2 linked regions of the Homo sapiens genome follow. The protein of the gene in region 1 purifies or fractionates together with the protein of each later gene. This does not show direct contact. Each region holds a gene or a part of one and is shown in the gene's direction. Other genes may lie near its edges.

The links. The genes of interacting proteins can lie anywhere in the genome.
Region 2: the proteins of CALY (region 1) and NRG1 purify together in Homo sapiens (affinity purification with western blotting, with the first as the bait; one study listed by BioGRID). This does not show direct contact.

Annotation. Positions count from the first base shown.
Region 1 is NC_000010.11:133,334,086-133,338,476, reverse strand, and holds the start of CALY (neuron-specific vesicular protein calcyon), read left to right. Parts: upstream 1-1,580; 5' UTR 1,581-1,643; intron 1,644-4,391. UniProt on the Homo sapiens protein: Interacts with clathrin light chain A and stimulates clathrin self-assembly and clathrin-mediated endocytosis.
Region 2 is NC_000008.11:32,771,319-32,774,546, forward strand, and holds the end of NRG1 (pro-neuregulin-1, membrane-bound isoform isoform HRG-alpha proprotein), read left to right. Parts: 3' UTR 1-2,728; downstream 2,729-3,228. UniProt on the Homo sapiens protein: Direct ligand for ERBB3 and ERBB4 tyrosine kinase receptors. Concomitantly recruits ERBB1 and ERBB2 coreceptors, resulting in ligand-stimulated tyrosine phosphorylation and activation of the ERBB receptors.

The DNA of each region.
Region 1 (4,391 bases):
GTTTGGGTGTGTCTGGTGTGTGAGGTGTGTATTTCTGGGGTGTGTGTCAGGTGTGTGTCTGGGGTGTGGGTCAGGTGTGTGTATGTCAGGTGTGTGGTGTGTGTGTGTCAGGGATGTGTTTGAGGTGAGTGTGTTTGGGTGTGTCTGGTGTGTTTCTGGGGTATGTGTCAGATGGGCATCAGGTGTGTCAGGTGTGTGGGGGGGTGTGTTTGGGTGTTTCTGCTGTTTAAGGTGTGTGTTTCTGGGGTGTGGGTCAGGTGTGTGTGTCAGGTGTGGGGTGTGTGTCAGGGGTGTGTGTGAGGTGTGTTTGGGTGTCTGGTGTGTGAGATGTGTGTTTCTGGGGTGGGTGTCAGGTGCGTGTCGTGTATGTGAGATGTGTGGGTGTGTCTGGTGTGTGAGGTGTGTTTCTGGGGTGTCAGGTGTGTGTGTGTGAGGTATGTCTGGGGTGTGTGTGTGAGGTATATCTGGGGTGTGTGTGAATTGTGTGTTTAGATGTATTTGGTGTTTGAGGTGTTTCTGGGGAGAGTGTCAGGTGTGTGTGTCTGGGGTGTGTGTCAGATGTGTGTTTCTGGGGTGTGGGTCAGGTGTGTGGGGTGCGGGTTAGGTGTGTGGGGTGTGTCTCAGGTGTGTGTGTGTCTGGGGTGTGTGTGAGGTGTGTGTCTGGATGTGTCTGGTGTTTGAAATGTGTGTTTCTGGGGGCTGTCAGGTGTGTGTCAGCTGTGTGTGTGTCTGAGGTGTGTGTGAGATGTGTGTTTGGATGTCTGGTATTTGATGTGTGTATTACTAGGGTGTGTGTGTCAGGTGTGTGTGAGGTGTGTGTTTGGATGTATCTGTTGTTTGAGGTGTTTCTGGGGTATGTGTGTCAGGTGTGTGGGGTGTGTGTGTCAAATGTGTGCCTGGGGTGTGTATCAGGTATATGTGTTGTTGGGTGTGTGTGAGGTGTGTGTCAGGTGTATGTTTCTGGGGGTGTGTCAGGTGTGTGTGTCACGTGTGTGTCAGGTGTGTGTCGGGTGTGTGTGAGGTGTGTGTTTGAATGTGGTGTTTGAGGTGTGTGATTCTGGGGGTGTGTCGGGTGTGTCAGGTGTGTGTGTGTCTGGGGTGTGTGTGAGGTGTGTGTGGTGTGTGTGTCGGGTGTGTGTTGGGTGTGTGTCTGGGGTGTGTGTGTCTGGGGTGTGTTTGGATGTGTCTGGTGTTCGAGATGTGTGATTCTGGGGTGTGTGTGTGTCAGGTGTTTGGGGTGTTTGTGAGGTGTGTGTGTGGGGGGTGTTTGTGTGAGGTGTGTGTCTGGGATGTGTGTGAGGTGTGTGTTTGGATGTGTCTGGTGTTCGAGGTGTGGTTTCTGGGGATGTGTCAGGTGTGTGTGCATCAGGTGTGTGTATGAGGTGTGTGGTGAGGCCCGAGCAGGGTCTGAGGGGCGCATGCGCGGCTCCCTAGCCGGGGCGGTGGGTGGGGGTAGAGGGTGCGGGACCAGAGTCGAGGCCCCGCCTCTAGCCGCGTTTCCATGGCGACCACAGCCTCGGTCTCGCAGCTGCAGCCCCCGCCCCGCCCGGCCGCGAAGCGTCTGGAACCGCATCCTCCGCATCCACATCCGCATCGTCGTCCTCCCCGACCGCGTCCTGCAGCAGCTGCCAGTGGAGCCGCCTGTGAGCTATTTCCACATTTCTTGCAGAATGTGGGCGGGGGGCCCGAAGGGGTGCGGGGGTGCGAGGCGCGTGTGCGGGTGTGTGTGCGAGGTGCGTGTGCTCGCGAGTGCGCTTGTGCGTGGCGCGCGTGCGGATGAGGGTGTGAGTGCGTGTGTGCGAGGCGCGTGTGCGGGTGCGAGTGTGCAGGGCGCGCTGCACGGCCGCCCTCCTCCCTCGGGCCTCCTCTGGCTGCCCCAGGCCAGTCCGACCCCGCGGACCCGAGGGCGGTGGTCTCCAGGCTTCCCGTGACGGCGGGGCCCCGGCACGAGGATCGCAGCCTGGAGTTAAGGGTGTCTCCGAGGTGGGGAGGGGGTACCAGTCCCAGCTCCCGCCCAGCTCTGTCCGCCGGAGGCGGGGTGGGGAGGGCGACAGAAGGGGCGTCGGACCAGAGCACCGAGGAGCCGCTGCCCGCACGGGGGTTGGGGGTGGGCGGTGGGCTTGATGGGGGCGTCTGCGTGACAGGCAAGAGGTGGCCAGGAGGCCGGGAGGGGCGCGGCTCCGGAACCACCTGCAGCAGGCTCGGGTGCGGGGCCACAGGTGGCTGGGCTGGAAGCGGGAGCAGCTGCGCGCCCACTCCCCTCCGAGGGGCTGCGCCGACCCCGCAGTGCAGCTGCCTTTTAATAAGCGGGGCAGCCACAGCCCCCTGCAGCGCCAGGGGCGGGAGGCTGCGGTGGCGCCCGCGGGGGCTGGGCGGGACCCTCAGATCCGCAGTCACACGCGCTGGTGCCCGGCCCGCACAAGCCCACCTGCGCGCACCCCCCAGCGTGACGCAGCATTCCATGGTTGGGGGGGGCGCATGCGGAAGCGAGTCTGTGACGTGACCTCCAGCCGAGCTTCCGTGGACTTTCGACTGAGAGCCTGCACCCCCGCCCCCGCCATCCATCTGTCCATCTGCACGGCCTCACTCACCCGCGCCCCCACCCATCTGCCATCAGCATCCCACGCCTTCCCCGCCCCAGAGACAGGAGCCGGGCACTGCCTCCCTGCCAGAGCGCGGCGGGTGGGGCGCAGGGGACCCGCAGAAGATGCCGCGACAGCGCAGGTGCAGGGAGGGGCCGGGAGGAGAAGCAGAGGCGGCCCCCCAGTTCCACGAGCCGCGTGTCATCCGTGGGAGGAGGCCCCCATGACGCAGCAATGCAAAGGGAAGGTCTGGTGTGTGGGGTGGGGGGGTTGGACCCCACACACAGGCTAGTCCCCCCTTTCCAACCCCGCATTCCGCCCGGGGCGCTGGGCCCGGAACCAGAAGCGAGGCTCCAGTGGGCCCCCAATGGCTTTTTCTTCCTGAAGACGCGTCTCGGGCCTGTCTGCGTTGCCATGGAAACCCGCGATGACGTAAATTGGCCGTCCGAGGAGTTGGATTTGAAGTTTGGCTCGAAGGGGACCCCTCAAGCGCAGCTCCTCCTGGCGGGGGTCCTGCCCGAGCGGGGGTTCGGGCGGAGACTCCTGGCGCGGGCCCTCCGGGGCGTGGCCCTACCCTATGGCGCTGCGGGCCCTGGTGCGGGACTGCGCCCCCTTCTCCGCCTCCCCCTCGCCCGTCTGTAGAGAGGCTGGGCTTGCTCTGGGCGTCCGCTCCGGGGAGACCCCCGACCCCTCCTCCTCAGCGGCACCCCCACCCCCGCGGGCCAAGCTCCACCTCAAGCCCCGGCGCTGGCTGCCCTCGCCCCACAACCACGTCATTCCCCGGCCTCTCGGCCCTCCGCTGCTCCGACTCTGCTTCCACCGATCGCTCCTGTATCTGAGCCCCGTGGCGCCTCGTCCGTCTCCGCCTGCACACACACGGACGCTGGCTGCACCGTGAAACCTCGCCCGCCGAGTGCCCATTGCCCCTGCCCGGGCCACGTGGGAACCCACCTCAGGAAGAGTCTTCAGCCCGGGGTGGGTGGTCTGGGGGACACCGCACGGCCTCTTCCAGAAAGGCCCGGCAGGCACAGGGTCGCCTGCGATGAACACACAACAACGAGGGGCACGGGTTAGGGCCCCAAAGCGCGTGGCCAGGTCCAGGACTGGGGGCCCTGTCTCCCCTCGCCTAGCTCCTTCCGGCTCAGAGTGGCCTCCCCCATCCCCTACCCAGCCCTCGTTCACCGGCCGCACTCTCGCCCACGCAGATCCTTCCCCCTCAGTTCTTTCCCCACGCAGAAGCTGCCACCTCCAAATCCTTCCTCCCCTGATCCTTCCCCCTTCAGATCCTTCGCCCCTCAGATCCTTCTCCCTCATGTCCTTCCCCCTCAGAGCCTCCCCCTCAGAGCCTTCCCCCCTCAGAGCCTTCCCCGCTCAGATCCTTCGCCCCTCAGATCCTTCCCCTCATGTCCTTCCCCTTCAGAGCCTCCCCTTCAGAGTCTTCCCCCCTCAGAGCCTTCCCCGCTCAGATCCTTCCCCCCTCAGATCCTTCGCCTTTCAGATCCTTCCCCCTCATGTCCTTCCCCCCTCAGAGCCTTCCCCCCTCAGAGCCTTCCCCCCTCAGAGCCTTCCCCGCTCAGATCCTTCCCCCCTCAGATCCTTCGCCTTTCAGATCCTTCCCCCTCATGTCCTTCCCCCCTCAGAGCCTTCCCCCCTCAGAGCCTTCCCCGCTCAGATCCTTCCCCCCTCAGATCCTTCGCCTTTCAGATCCTTCCCCCTCATGTCCTTCCCCCCTCAGAGCTTCCCCTTCAGAGCCTTCCCCCCTCAGAGCCTTCCCCCCTCAGATCCTTCGCCCCTCAGATCCTTCCCCCT
Region 2 (3,228 bases), on another chromosome or scaffold:
TCTCGCTATGTTGCCCAGGCTGGTCTTCAATTCCTGGCCTTAAGTGATCCTCCTGCCTCGGCCTCCCAAAGTGCTGGAATTACAGGCATGAGCCACCACCCATAACTTTATGTTTGTTTTTTTGATGCAGTATAAGTTCAGCTTGCTTCTTATGCAGCCATACCATTTCATGTTAACTCTGATTTTTAGCAGCTTATTACATTAGTGTTTTATTATTAATATAATTTTACAGAAATTTACTAAACCATGACTCTGTAGAGTTTTAATAATACTACCTCCAAACATCATTGCAAACATCTAGAAGAATGAACAAAAATGATCTTAGATCGACAGTATATCTGTTTGTCTTAGTTTCTACACAGGATGTTCAGACATATTCCATTTCTTTAAAAAAAAAATATATATATATATATATATATATAGGCCTGGCACGGTGGCTCATGACTGTAATCCCAGCACTTTGGGAGGCTTAGGCAGGCAAATCACCTGAGGTCAGGAGTTTGAGACTGGCCTGACCAACATGGTGAAACCTCGTCTCTATTAAAATTACAAAAATTAGCCGGGCGTGGTGGCACATGCCTGTAATCCCAGCTACTCGGGAGGCTGAGGCAGGAGAATCACTTGAACCTGGGAGGCAGAGGTTGCAGTGAGTTGAGATCACGCCATTGCACTCCAGCCTTGGTGACAAGAGTGAAACTCCGTCTCAAAAAAAAAAAAAATATGTATATATATATATATATATATATATATATATATATATATATATATATAAAATCCCACCAAAAGTCTGCAGAGTGACCAAATTAGACGGCTCTGGTTTCAGATTAAATTCTAAATGTGAGAAACCACATAGCTCCCATGATCCATCCAATAATTCCTCACGTCCTCTTCACTCTTTACTCCATGCATAAAACAGAATTTTTTTTTCTCATCCTGGGTATGAAGCAATTAATAATTTACGGATTTAGCCTATTTGGATTCAATCCCTTCAAACTCCATACTACATCCAAGGTGGAAGTGACTTAAACTCTGATATCAATCATCAGGCTTGTAATATAGGCTTTGTTAATGGCAGGAGAGTCTAATAAAACTTTCTGTTCCTTATCCTTCATTTAAATGAAAAACTTTTTATTGAAAACAATCATAACTCTAGCTCATCATAAATATAATTCATGAGGACATTTTATTATTTTTATATTAAAGAAATAATATTATAGATGTAAACTTTGCACCTTTCTAATTATTATCATGAGTTAAGCTAATACTTGTCTTCTGGTCCCTAGATGATGATTCTTTTTTGCCTTACTGGAGGAGCCCTTGTCTTGAAGTGAGTTGCTTCAACAGCAGAGGACTTCTAGTTTCTCCCAGTTGAGCCTAAAGTGAACTTTTCATCTTCTTCAGAGGAAGGGGCTTCCTTGATTTGTACTTTTGTGGCTCCTCAGATAACACAGACAATTTTATCTTGGATCCCAGGTTCTCTTCACCATTAAGAATAAGAAAGAGAGAAAATGCTGTGCATGACAGCCACCTACTCCAAACTACCCAACCCCCTGTAACCAGGTACCTTCCAACAACGAGATGATTCTGCCCTCACTCAAGAGTCTCCCCCACAAAGATTCCATTCTCCCTTTACTTTTTATTTTTTATTTTTTTGCAAAACAAAGGCCTCCTTTAGTACCTCCTTAGTTTATAACCCTTATCTTCCCAGCTCTTCCCTTCACTGATACCTCTGATTTCAAAAGTTCTGAAGTCGGAAGACCACACAATTTCAGACTGTGAACAGAAATTCAGTCAGAAATTATTGGAGTTAGAAAGAATTTAGAGAAATTGTATTGAACTAGAAAGTCCTCTTTGATTAGTGGTGGCCCTTTAGAAAGTTCTAGGGCAGAGTCCCATGGTGTTTCATCTTTTCCATGATTTGCTTGACCAAAAACTTTTCTTTCACAACATGAAAATATGCTAATCCACCACACATTTTGGATTCTGCTCTGTTTGCCTGAGGTGTTAGATCTCTAGCCAGGACTGTGAAGGGAAGGAACTTGAATCCTTCCTATTGAGCTATTAATGCAGAGTCAGTGAGATGAAGGGTTCCACTCGGGGTCAAAATCATGTCAGTTACCAAGCAAAGGAGCAAGTAAGGGGAAACATCTCCTCATCTGGTTAGTGGAGCCACATTTCACCCACTGATCAAGCCAGACCTGAGCAATAGTCTAGATTTCTCCCTCCACATCTAATTGGTGACAATGGTGATTGTACCACTGACAGGTCACACAAGTCCACACCCTCCTTCACAGCCTCACTGCTTCGGCTCTTGTTTATGCTCTTATCAGCATCTGTCACTAGGATCCATTTGTCTCCTGACTCATCTACTTCCTTTCACTCCCCTGGGCCATCCTTCACATCATGCTAGAAGACTGTGTCTAACTTGCAGAACTTATTGTGTCAATCTCCTGGTTACGGCCCCTCCATGGCTCCCCACCTGACATAGGAGGCCCTTCACAATCTGGCTTCTGTCACTCATAACTTGTCTCCAGCCTTCATTCTTCAGTCTGATTTTATGGTTTTCTAGTTCCCCAATACACCACACCAGTGTTTATGAAACCCTAGTCATTGGCCTACGAACTTTATGATTATTGACATATTCATGTACCACCTGTATTATTTTTTGCATAGTGTTTATTTTTAATTGACTACATTTTTAACTACAATAAAGTAATTTCAACTAAAACTTGGTATCAATGCTGCGAATGGAAAACTGCTATCAGTTGCCATAATAAAAATGAAACTGTAAAAATAAATATAATAAAAATGAAACAAAGTTATTAAGTTCTAACCAGATACTGTTGCCTGCTCAAAGGTCTGAGCAATAAGCCTGTTCTCTGTTTGACACAAAGGGAGTTCAGAAAGTGTTAGAGAGATAGAAAATATTTTGGGGAAGCACAGAAAGATTTATTCCCTGAGTTAGCCAGGATTGAGAGGGAGTTGATAGAGCAGTTACTTCTATGGTTTTGTTCAATGTTATTTAATGCTTGATCCTAGAATCATCCTGCATACAACATTCAGTCATCCACATATCTCAGGAAGCACAATATTGTGCTTGCTACATATCCCTGCCCTTGTTCTGTTTTACTGGAACTCCCTTCTCCATTCGTCCTCCTGACAAACTTCTTTCGCCCTCTCTCTGGATAAAGAGAGTTTCCTTCTCTGGGATTCCTTCCATGACCTATT